2 separate regions of the Homo sapiens genome follow, and region 2 is linked to region 1. The links come from fine-mapping of genetic effects on gene expression. A gene starts in region 1. The other region holds a variant in brackets. All regions are shown on one strand. Distances are between the middles of the regions.

What was found. PIP is the estimated chance that this variant, and not a neighbour inherited with it, causes the effect. A credible set is the group of variants that fine-mapping cannot tell apart.
Region 2: its variant is the best candidate, but not a certain one, in a credible set for the expression of MS4A4A in whole blood (TOPMed, PIP 0.50).

The regions. Positions count from the first base shown.
Region 1 is chr11:60,277,425-60,282,815 of GRCh38, forward strand. It overlaps MS4A4A (membrane spanning 4-domains A4A), which reads left to right and starts at 3,242. Exons shown (of 7, transcript NM_148975.3): 1 at 3,242-3,292. The coding sequence starts at 3,252. RefSeq lists a silencer at 3,127-3,176.
Region 2 is chr11:60,336,681-60,342,071 of GRCh38, forward strand. MS4A6E (membrane spanning 4-domains A6E) reads left to right here. Exons shown (of 5, transcript NM_139249.4): 3 at 1,061-1,267; 4 at 3,186-3,284; 5 at 4,096-4,661. The coding sequence ends at 3,275. Among named protein-coding and RNA genes, the nearest start is that of MS4A6E, 12 kb to the left of the region's middle. The variant T/C (reference allele first, on the strand shown) is at 2,452.

The DNA.
Region 1 (5,391 bases):
GGAAGGGAGAGTGTATACAGAAAAATACTAATGAAACAGATCAATTACCTGTGGGTCTATAGACACTGAGATTTACATTTATGGTGGAGTATTTAAAACAACTTATTTTCAGGTATGTAGAAAACAGCATATGAAACATGAGGCAGTTACTAACTTCAGAGAGAAAAATGGTCAAAAGGAAGCGTAATCATAACACTCATAATGAATTAGCCATTAATGATTTAAATACTATAAATTGAGTTAACTAAAAAATCGTGATAAAACTATATGGGAGAATGAGGGAAAAGGAAGTGTTATGGTGGGAAGGTGTGTCCAGGGTAAAAATGAAGGATATAGGGGTTAGTCTATTGTCTTCAGTAGTAGGAGGTTAGTGCATAATATATAAAACCAAAAATTAGAACAGTATTTAAAATCATTCACTTAGAAATATGGAGTCAACACAAAAAGAAACAATTAAAATTTAAATACTTGCTTCTGGAGAAAGAAAATTGATTGGGAACTGGGGAAGGGGGCACTAATGATTTCTTTCAGGCTAAATCCAGTGAACATTTTACTGTTGTTAGCTTGTCTCTCTGAAGTATTTAATAATAATTGAATGATTTCTTCCTACTGAAATATTTCTGTGCTCAAAAAATGATAAGTAATTTATTTATATTACCTAATATAACCCTTTCAACAACGCTATGACATATTACTATCTATATTTTACAGATGAGTAAACTGAGGTGCAGAAAGCCTAAGCAACTTGCTCCAGCTCACATAGGGCATAGGATTCAAAATCCAGCTCAAGGCCGGGTGCAGTGGCTCACGCCTGTAATCCCAGCACTTTGGGAGGCTGAGGAGGGTATATTACTTGAGATCTGGAGTTCGAGAACAGCCTGGCCAAAATGGTGAAACCCAGTCTCTGTTAATATATAATATAACATATTATATAGAGATACATTCTATTATATATATAATATATTCTATTATAATATAATATATATTCTATTATATAATATATATTATATATTATATCTATTATATATAATATATCTGTATATGATATATAATTATATATAATATATAGATATTCTATTATATATAATAGGATATATATTCTATATATATAGAATATATATATTTCTCTGTCAAATTTCATGTTATTGTTCTCTTGAAATTGTTATCTGCTAATAATAACCTGATACTGTCTCATTTCATACCATATGGAGTGGGAGGAGAGACTGATGCCTGTCCTTAGTCCAGAATTTCAACCTCTCTTAGGAAGTCATGAAACTCTGTACCCTTGTCTTCTGCAATGCCACATTTTCCGAGTTTGCCTGCTATCTTCCTTACCCTCTTTTTCATAATCCTCTGGGAAATCTTATTTCTGATTATACTGTCTCTATCCTCTAGAAAAAGGGTTTGACGTTTTCTGCCTCCACCCACAAGCCTGGGTGACCTCATCCCTCTGGGCGAAGAGCTGTTGGGTTTACCTCTATAGCCATGTTCTCATTCCCTAGCTCCTGCCAGTTATCCACTTCTTGTCAACTTTATTTGAAGGTCCCTACACAACTCTGATCAAATACGTTCAAAATTTTACTATTTGTTCCTGCAGTTCTGTCCTGGTCCATGTCTATTGCCTTACTGAATGGCTCTATCACTCATTCAGTTTCCTAACCCAGAATCTGAGTGTCATCCTTTCCTGTTTTTTCTCCTGATTTACACATCCATTATACCAACAAGTACTGTCATTTCTTGTTCCTAAGCATCTTTCAAATCCATTCATTCTCTCCAACTTCACTAGCATCACAGGTAGTTCAGTAACCATCATCCCTTCCCTAGAGAACTGCCTCTACCTTGAGCCTAATTCTCTGATTTTATTATTATTTATTCCTGTTGTCTGAAACCAGGACAATATTTCTGAAATATAATCTATTTTAATTTTGAGAATCGTAATTTCAGATTATAGACCACATAGTTTTTGGAATTAAGTAAAACTGGATTTCAATCTCATCTATACCAGCTATACGAATATCTCTGAGTTTCAGTTTCTTCTTCTGAAAAATAGAAATAATAATATTACCTTCCTTCATTCCCTTTCCATTTGTGTGTCTTTTGCTCATTCATCAGGTCTCCAATTAGATGTCCCCTTATCTAGGAAGTCTCCTCTGCCTACCCAATGTTGGGTTCATTGATCCTCCTATGAGCTCTCTTAGGATATCCTACTTTACCTTGCAGATCACTGATTACAATGGGTTGTAATGATGTATTTACTCATCTGTATTGCCACTTTACCTTGCAGATAACTGATAGTAATGGATTGTAGTGATTTATTTACTGGTCTGTTTTTCCAAGTAGTCTATAAACTCTTTGAGTGAAAATTATTTTTTACCATTTTTTCAGAAGCACACGGCACACTGCTTGGCTTATAGTAGTTTTTCTAAAGAAAATGCTGAATGAATGAAAACTGCACACCACTTTGCTTTCCTCCTCCATGTAAAGTAGGCATTATTTTATTTTACAAATGAATCTTAGGTTCAGGAGATTAACAGGGCCATGCAAGAAATGTTTGCCATTGGTTTGATCTTAGTCAAAGACCAGCTCGTTCTATGATACCAGCTGCTTCCTTCACTTAGAAAGGTGTTGTTTTATTGCCATACAACCAACTTGTTGCCATTTTATGGCCACTCCTGATGAATCTCTAAAGGTGGAATTTCATGTAAATAAAACATTTAAGTTGTGTATATTAAGGTTGGTGCAAAAGTTAATTGTGATTTTGGCCATAAAATAATGGCAAAAACTGCAATTACTTTTGCACCAACCTAATAAAATAGTAATAGTAGTGCTCCAGGAAGACAAGAGTACTGTGGAAATGTGTGACCCTGTGAAAGGGGGTATTTACAAAATACCATTTACTTGTTTATATAACGACTTTTGAAGAGAGTCTGGCATACAGTAAATCCTCTACCACTGATATCCACAGTAATTAGCAGTATTATTTTCATAGGAAAGACTGTATCAGGCAGCCCCTGCTTTTTCAGCAAATTTCAAAATAGACATCCACACCCATATTGGGAACACAAAATCAGTTAATGCTTCCGATATAAAAGAGGAACTAGCTGTGCGTCTCAGAAATTCTCAGCACAGCCTTTAAGGTTCCAAACATCTGCTAGAAGAGGAATGCAGATTTAAACTGAGTGAGGTGTGGAGTGGGGGAAGTTGATTGGGTCTAGACCAAAGAACTTTGAGGAACTTGCCCAGAGCCCTGCATGCATCAGACCTACAGCAGACATTGCAGGCCTGAAGAAAGGTAGGTCCAGGGACTTGCCTTCCTAGGCTTTCGGGCTGATGGCTTGTTTCACTTCCTGGGTTAAGAATTTCTGGGAGGGGAATGAGAAGAATAATGAGGCCACTTCCCATGACCCAAGCTGGTATTCAGGGTTGGGGTGGGTTGAGTGCACCTTTAAATGTGCATTCGGTGGGGGGATGAGGAACAGTTTTTGCTACAGTCGATAGGAGTTAGAAAAGCCTCCTAAAGGCTGACATTGGAGGCTGGATAAGGTTGTTTAGTTACTTTTGTCCCCTGAGTCTTCAGGATATCAAAACACTGAAAGCAACATTTTAAACCTTTGACTAGTTACCTCATCTACTGTTAATGCCCTTCTTCTGTGGTCTTTATTCTCTGTGTCTGACTGGTTATTTTTATAACTCAGGATTTAAGAACAGATGTATCACATGCAGAATTTGGTGTACATGGAGTAGGGCACAGGCAGGGTCCCCAGCCTTGTACATTTAGATGGGCTGTGGCCTGACCTAGTTCTCCAGTGGTCTTTGGCACTATTCATGGGGCACCCAGGCAGTAAACTGAGGCTGCTCATGATAAAATCTGCTAATGAAAAACACCTTGTAGACTTTTAGCATTCTTAGGATAAGAAAGAAGCTTGTAAGTGGTCGTGGCCATTGTAATCTTTCCCCAGATGAAGTAAAAGAAGCCAATAAAAGGGAAATAATGTACCCAGAATCACACAAGTTAACAAAAGGGCTGGGAGAAAAACAAAAACAAAAACAAAAACAGAATTCTTGGTTCCTAGCCCGGGCCTTTCCCCCTTTTCCCTTCCCATGCCACCACTTCTGCATCCCCATCATCCTTCTAAAACCATCCAGATTCAGGCCTCATTTTGGGTTTCTAGTCTATTTGACAACTTTGCCAAGAAAAACGGATGGCTGTTTGTACCACTCTCCTCATGCTCTCTCCTTGCAATTGTGACCCATGAGGAGGATGGTGACATAAAAATGAGGAAATAAGAGACTGGTGGTGCTGCTGATCCACAAGGTGACTGGGGCCAATAGAAGAGGGAAGGGTGGTCTGGGTTTCCCCACCTCTTTATCAGGGGTGTGGGGGAAAGACATTGTATTTCTTAAGAGCCTGATGCATATAGGTGATGTGGCAAAACCAAGGTTTAAATTCTTCTCCAACCTGGAAGAAATGTCCCTCATATGCATCCAATATTCTCAGCAGTTAAAAAAAAAATTGAATATAGAGAAGTCAAGCCCTGGATGGTAAACACGTTTTTGTTCTTGGGGACTTCATGTGCCGTAGATAATTAACACAAGGATTTCTGTGGTGGAAAAAGAGGAGGCAGTTATATGAATTTATGGCCAGAGTTTCTTAGAATGACAAAGCACCAGCCTTGAATGACCAGAACCTGACCTATGTTACCAAAGAATTATGGGAAAGCATAGGAGTCAGTTACAAGCTTTATTTTGATATAATTGCTCTGCCCTCGAGGAAGCTTACAGTCTTACCAGAGAGGCACTAAACACAGAGAGAGAACCACCAGTGCGTTTGATAAGACAGACCCAACATGTCCTAAATTCTCAGTCTGAAGGTGTGCCTGAGAGATTGAGGCAGAGGTTCTTTTACATTAAAGAAGAATAAAGTACACATTTAGATGGACTAAGAAGAATCATCTTTAGTCACTTTCCAAATAACTTTGACTTTTGCAATGTAGAAGGAACATAACACATTTCTTAAACCCTTATTTACCGTCATAGGCTGACTAATCCACATGTGGGCAATGGTGGGGAAGTGGGGGAATAGTGTCTGAGAGAAGATAGAGACTATAAAATGCTGTTCATGTGTGAGAAGATTAGATGATGTGGTGGGTTTGTTTTTGTTCTTACAAGGTGGTCACAAGAGGGGTGGAACATTCCTGCAAATGGTTTCAATATATGCAGATGTCTCAATATAGGAATGAAATTACGTCTTTGGAACAACTTAAATAAGTCAAATATACTTGGAGCTTTAAAAATTAAAAGGAGAGAGATTCGAGGTAAGACTACAATAGATTTGTGCTGAAGTAGCCGAGCTTTTGTTATCAACATTAAAAATTTTAACTTTATGCTAAG
Region 2 (5,391 bases), 59 kb after region 1:
ATGTTGGGAAATTGGGGTCCCAGAGCATCAACTGGTGAGTTCCTAAAAGAAGAAGTGCCCATATGGGATTAAATAACACTCTACTGTATGGCTGTGGGATGTGCCCTGGAGCCTACCTACCTGTAACAATAGCTTTCAGAATGCTGTGAGCTCAGTTCTCTTTTCTGTGTGAGTTGGAGTAAAGGAAGTCACTTCTGAGGTCAGTTTATTTATTTCCTCCACTTCATAAATGTAGAAATGAGAACCAGAGTGGGAAATAAAACCAAGGAACTGAGTACCCAAGGGAACAAGCTGGGTCAAGTCTATATTGTGACCTCAATTTTCTGACATCCAGTCCAGGCCTTTATTCTGTACCTCCCGCTGCCTCCCACACATTACACCATCCTTGGGCCCGCACCTAGACCTCTGCCCACAGCCACCCCATGCTGCGCTCAATGTGGCCAGTCATATGCCTGCCCAGGTTCCAGGGCCTGCCTGAGACTCAGAACCACCCCCTCACTCATCTTTGAGAGGTGTGCTTTTGAGAGAGGCAATAGGCACGCAAAAGTGAGCTATTAGGTTGGTGCAAAGGTAATTGCGGTTTTGCCATTGAAAGTAGTGGCAAAACCCAAAATTACTTTTGCACCATGCTAATACACCATCCAGATTTTCTGTGTGGTTGATGCTTGCACGAGGGGTTTCTGAGTTGGCCGAGAGAGAAACTGCATCTGGTACATTGCCACCTTTGCTTGTGGTCACACTCACAGTAATTTTCCAGGCAAGCCTCGTGGGCCCTGCTATCTGTCCCAGGGAAAGAATTTAGGAGAGTAACATTCTCTACCACACTACTGAGGTCCTGTTTGAGGGGAACCAGTTCATATGTTCATTCATTCAGCCAAGTTTTACGTTGCAGATTCTGAGTTTTTGGCTGGACACTGGAGAGGCCTACAACAAGAAATGATCCCTCCGGGACTTCCTGAGGGAGACAGATAAGGGAATAACTTGCAATGTAATGGCAAAAAGGGATAAGAGAGATTCGTGGCCCTTTGGGAATGATTCTTACCCAGCATGTCTCTTTCAGGTGCATAGCAGCCTGGCTGGAAGCATTCTGAGTGCTCTGTCTGCCCTGGTGGGTTTCATTCTCCTGTCTGTCAACCCGGCTGCATTAAATCCTGCCTCATTGCAGTGTAAGTTGGACGAAAAGGATATACCAACCAGACTTCTTCTTTCTTATGATTATCATTCACCTTACACCATGGACTGCCATAGAGCCAAAGCCAGTCTGGCTGTAAGTATTTTTTAGATGGGATGTTCTAATTTTATGAGGTTTCTGAAAGCCTTGATTTCTTATTATTCCATCCTTTGAAAATCTCTCTGTTAATTCTGGTTTGGGCATCTGGAGGAAGGCCAAGGTTATGTAAATCAAAGGGGGGCTGCATGGATGAGATTAAGGGGATTACATACTAACAGAGTGGAATTGAAATGTCAGATAAGGTTGATGATGAAAAACTAAAACTTACGGTTTGTAGAGTTTCTTAATTACTCAACTAATCTAATTTTGGAGGCATAAATTATGAGTTTGTCAAACTGAGAATGTTGGTACATAGAGTGGTGAATTCAGATTGGCAAACAGAGCAGAAAGACCCGGGTGATCAGAAAATGCTGACAAGGAAATGTGGTATGTGTGTGTGGTAGGGGGTCAGTTTGGTCTAAAAAGACATCAGACTAAAGATGAAGAAACAGAGAATAGGAAATATGGGGTTAGATGGTAAGGGTTTCTCCTAATGATTACAATAATGAATAATACTAATCAGGTGAAACGGTAACATTATTATTGCTTTTTGTTATAGCTGAAAGAAGTGTGATATCTTAAATCAGGAGATAAGAAATATAGGGAGATGGAGAGTGTAACTGAGAATTATCGCAGGAGAATTCTCTCTCTTTGGAAGAAGAAAAACAATGAAGTTTGGCTAACAGAAATAATGTGTCTGAAGTTGAAAAATTAAGGGGTATGTGCATGGCCAGCAACGCATTGAGAGGAAAACAGGCAACATAAAAGTAAAGAAGTTGCAGAATATTTATTGTCCTGCAATCATAAAAATGAGGTCAGCCAAGAACTCACCTGGACGATGGACAGATAGAAAGGTCTGGTCAAATTCATGCTTGTACAGCACCCATTATAAACTGAGCCTTGCTTCCAAGGTAATGGTATAATGAGGAAAAAGTGCATGCAAATGAGGCTGACAGTAATTGGTACAAATTCCACCTTGGGAAAAATTCTGGAGAGAAATTTGGGAGAAATTTGGTAGTGATAAAGTATAAATTCATGATGGGACGATTTTATATTGGAAATAAGAGAGATTCTGTTGAGCTTGCTTGCTGGAACAATTTCTAGGTAATGGACACAACATGTATCTTCTATTTAACTGTGTGTAAATACCACAAAACAAAAGTTCATGTGATCAAATTACC[T/C]CCCTTTATTATCAGATGACCAGTTCTGCACAAAGAATGTCTCAGGACAGAAATGGTAGAACTCATCCTTGTGAGTTGGTGTTGGTGATTAGCAACAGTTTACTACCTTCACTGTTTTTTTCCAAGTCTTAAAACACCAAAAACAGCAAAAATAAAAAATAAACAACAAAAATAAAAAACATCCAAACAGGTTCAGATACATAGACAGGGATGTCAATACTGAATTTTACAAAGGGCTTACACAGCCAAAACCTCCTTGATCCTCACAAATCTCTGAGAAATAAATGTTAGTATGCATGTTTGATACATGAGGAAACAGGAGCTAGAGAAAGAAAGAGACTTGTCCAGGCTTACACAGCTACTCAGCAGTAAAGATGAGACTATAATGGAGCTGCTGATTCTCAGTCCTGGGAGCTATTACGCCACTCTGCTCTCTTACTGAGTGAACAATGTCATCAGAACTACGTACGTCTCAAAGAAGTGAGAAACAAGTGTATGAAATGGATTAGTTGATTTAGTTACTACTCATCTTCCCTTCTCTTCTCAAGAAACTGAATGAGTGAAGGAGTTGAATTAAGACAATTGTGAGGAGGAGCAGTTTTGTTTTCCTGATTGTTTCCTTACTTCATTCTCTAATGGTTGAGGTGGTCTTCATCTCTATGGTCACCTCTAAACTAGGCATGAAAGCTTCGGCTGACCCAAGCATCACTGATATTTTATTTCTTGACTTTCAGGGAACTCTGTCTCTGATGCTGGTTTCTACTGTGTTGGAGTTCTGCCTAGCTGTGCTCACTGCTGTGCTGCAGTGGAAACAGACTGTCTGACTTCCCTGGGTGAGTGTGCTGGCCAGCCTCGCTTAATCTTGCCTAGTGTATCTTATCTCTGCACTGTGTTGAGTATGTCACCAAGAGTGGTAGAAGGAACAATCAGTCAGTCATGAGATACACATGGGAGGTCATTTAAATGGTGATGGAAGACCGAGAAGAAAAGCAGATGGTAATTGAGTAGCTGACAAGCTGAGAGTTCACTGGATATGAAAATAGTTAAAATGAGAAATCAACTGGTTCAATCTTCCCATTTTGTCATTGAAGGGAATGAGACTCTGGGAAGTTAAATGACTGGGCTGGCATTATGATATGAGTCTGTACCTGTGCTGAGGACGCTAGAACCTGGCTTGCCTCCCTTCTAAGCAGAAACAATTTCTGCCACAACCACTAGTCTCTTTAATAGTATTGACTTGGTAAAGGGCCTTTACACATGTGACTGGATCCAGTGAATGTCTTATGCTCTGCTTTTCCTCCTGGTGATTTTAAAATTCTTTTTCCTTTTAAAAGATATATTAAAAATGTATTGTTGAATCAAATTCCAAGGGATACCACCCCTATGGACTTATTGCTTTATTTAACTGAATTTAAAAGCCTTGATTTATCCAGAATTTTATTATAGAGAATAGAAGAATACTAGACTGATAAATTGTAATTATTTGAAGAACCCAGTGATCTGCTCTACTTGTCTTGGATTAGCTAAGAATTCTATGTATACAGTTGGAAAAAATGGCATATCCACATGTATCTTGAACCTGAGTAAAGTCTGAAGACCTAACATACTTTGTTTCTTCTAAAGTGTGCTTTTCCTGCCTCACAGTTACTCATGTCCTCAAAGACGACTCATGATGCTGGATATGAAGAACTATTGACTTCTTGGGAAAAAACGGAGAAATATTAATTGGAAAGTTGATTTTTATGATAATATGGAAAACCTAACCATTATAAAAAAGCAAACTTGAGTTTCCTAAATGTAAGCATTTAAAGTAATGCATATTTGTTTTAAAAAATTATTTCGCTGTCATTTATGATATGTGTTCATTGGGGATCTCTTGGTTTGCCTGATACTGACTTCAGCAAAAGCACAGGGCTGTAAATTACCATTTACTAGACTAGCCAAATAGTCTTAGACATTTCCCAGAAAACTAGGCAGAATGATGATTCAATGGATCACAGTGAGGCAAAGGATACAGCTTTTTCTTATACTCCTCAATTGTGAACAGGAGTTAACTGATTTGCTGTGGTGCGCAGACTCTTTTATCACAGGTGCTACTGATTTATCCCATGTATTTTACTCATTAGTGCATAAAGGCAAACCCCATAATGAAGTCTCCGAGTGTATGAAAGTAGCCGGCTTCAAAATAAAATCTTTGAGTGCATACTTTATTTTAATACTTATTTTGTTATTTTTTCCTTTAAACACAGAATAAATCAACAATGACAGACATAAACCCAAATTTTAACTCAATTTTCTCCTCACCAATATTCAAACAAAACTAACGAGTGAACAAATGCTAACCAGGAATGCTTATCTGTTATGAAGAGACAACCAGTTCATACTTACGTCCTTATTTCAAAATAAAAAAGACGAATTGTTTGAGTATAACAAACATAAGCCTCACCTTGCTCATGCACACACACGCACACACACACACACACGTGTAAAAAAGTATTTCAATTTTATATGACCTCCATTTCTTTGAAAGATTTTGTCATATTTCCTTGCTCTGACCCTCTGTAGCAGGGGTCATACTTCATACTCACTGTCTCAGATATCCTGATACTCAGAGAGTTTCTCTGCTCTTTTTTTCCAGTCTCAAATGGAACTGTCAGTTTCTTTGATTTTAGCTTTATCTTCAAATCTGTTTCATTAGGTCTTCTCCCTGTCCTTTGCACCCCCCACTGACACACACCATTTCTTTTATTTATTTGCCTATTGTGGACATTCAACTTTTATTGATACTTATTGGATACCAGACACTATGCTTTTAATGCCAGGGCTACCAAAGTGAATAAGATACATGATTTGGCTTCAAGATATTTATAGTCAAATAAGGAAAACAGAGATGACAATGAAGTTAGGGATTTCGCTAACTGTTATTTGAGCACAGAATAA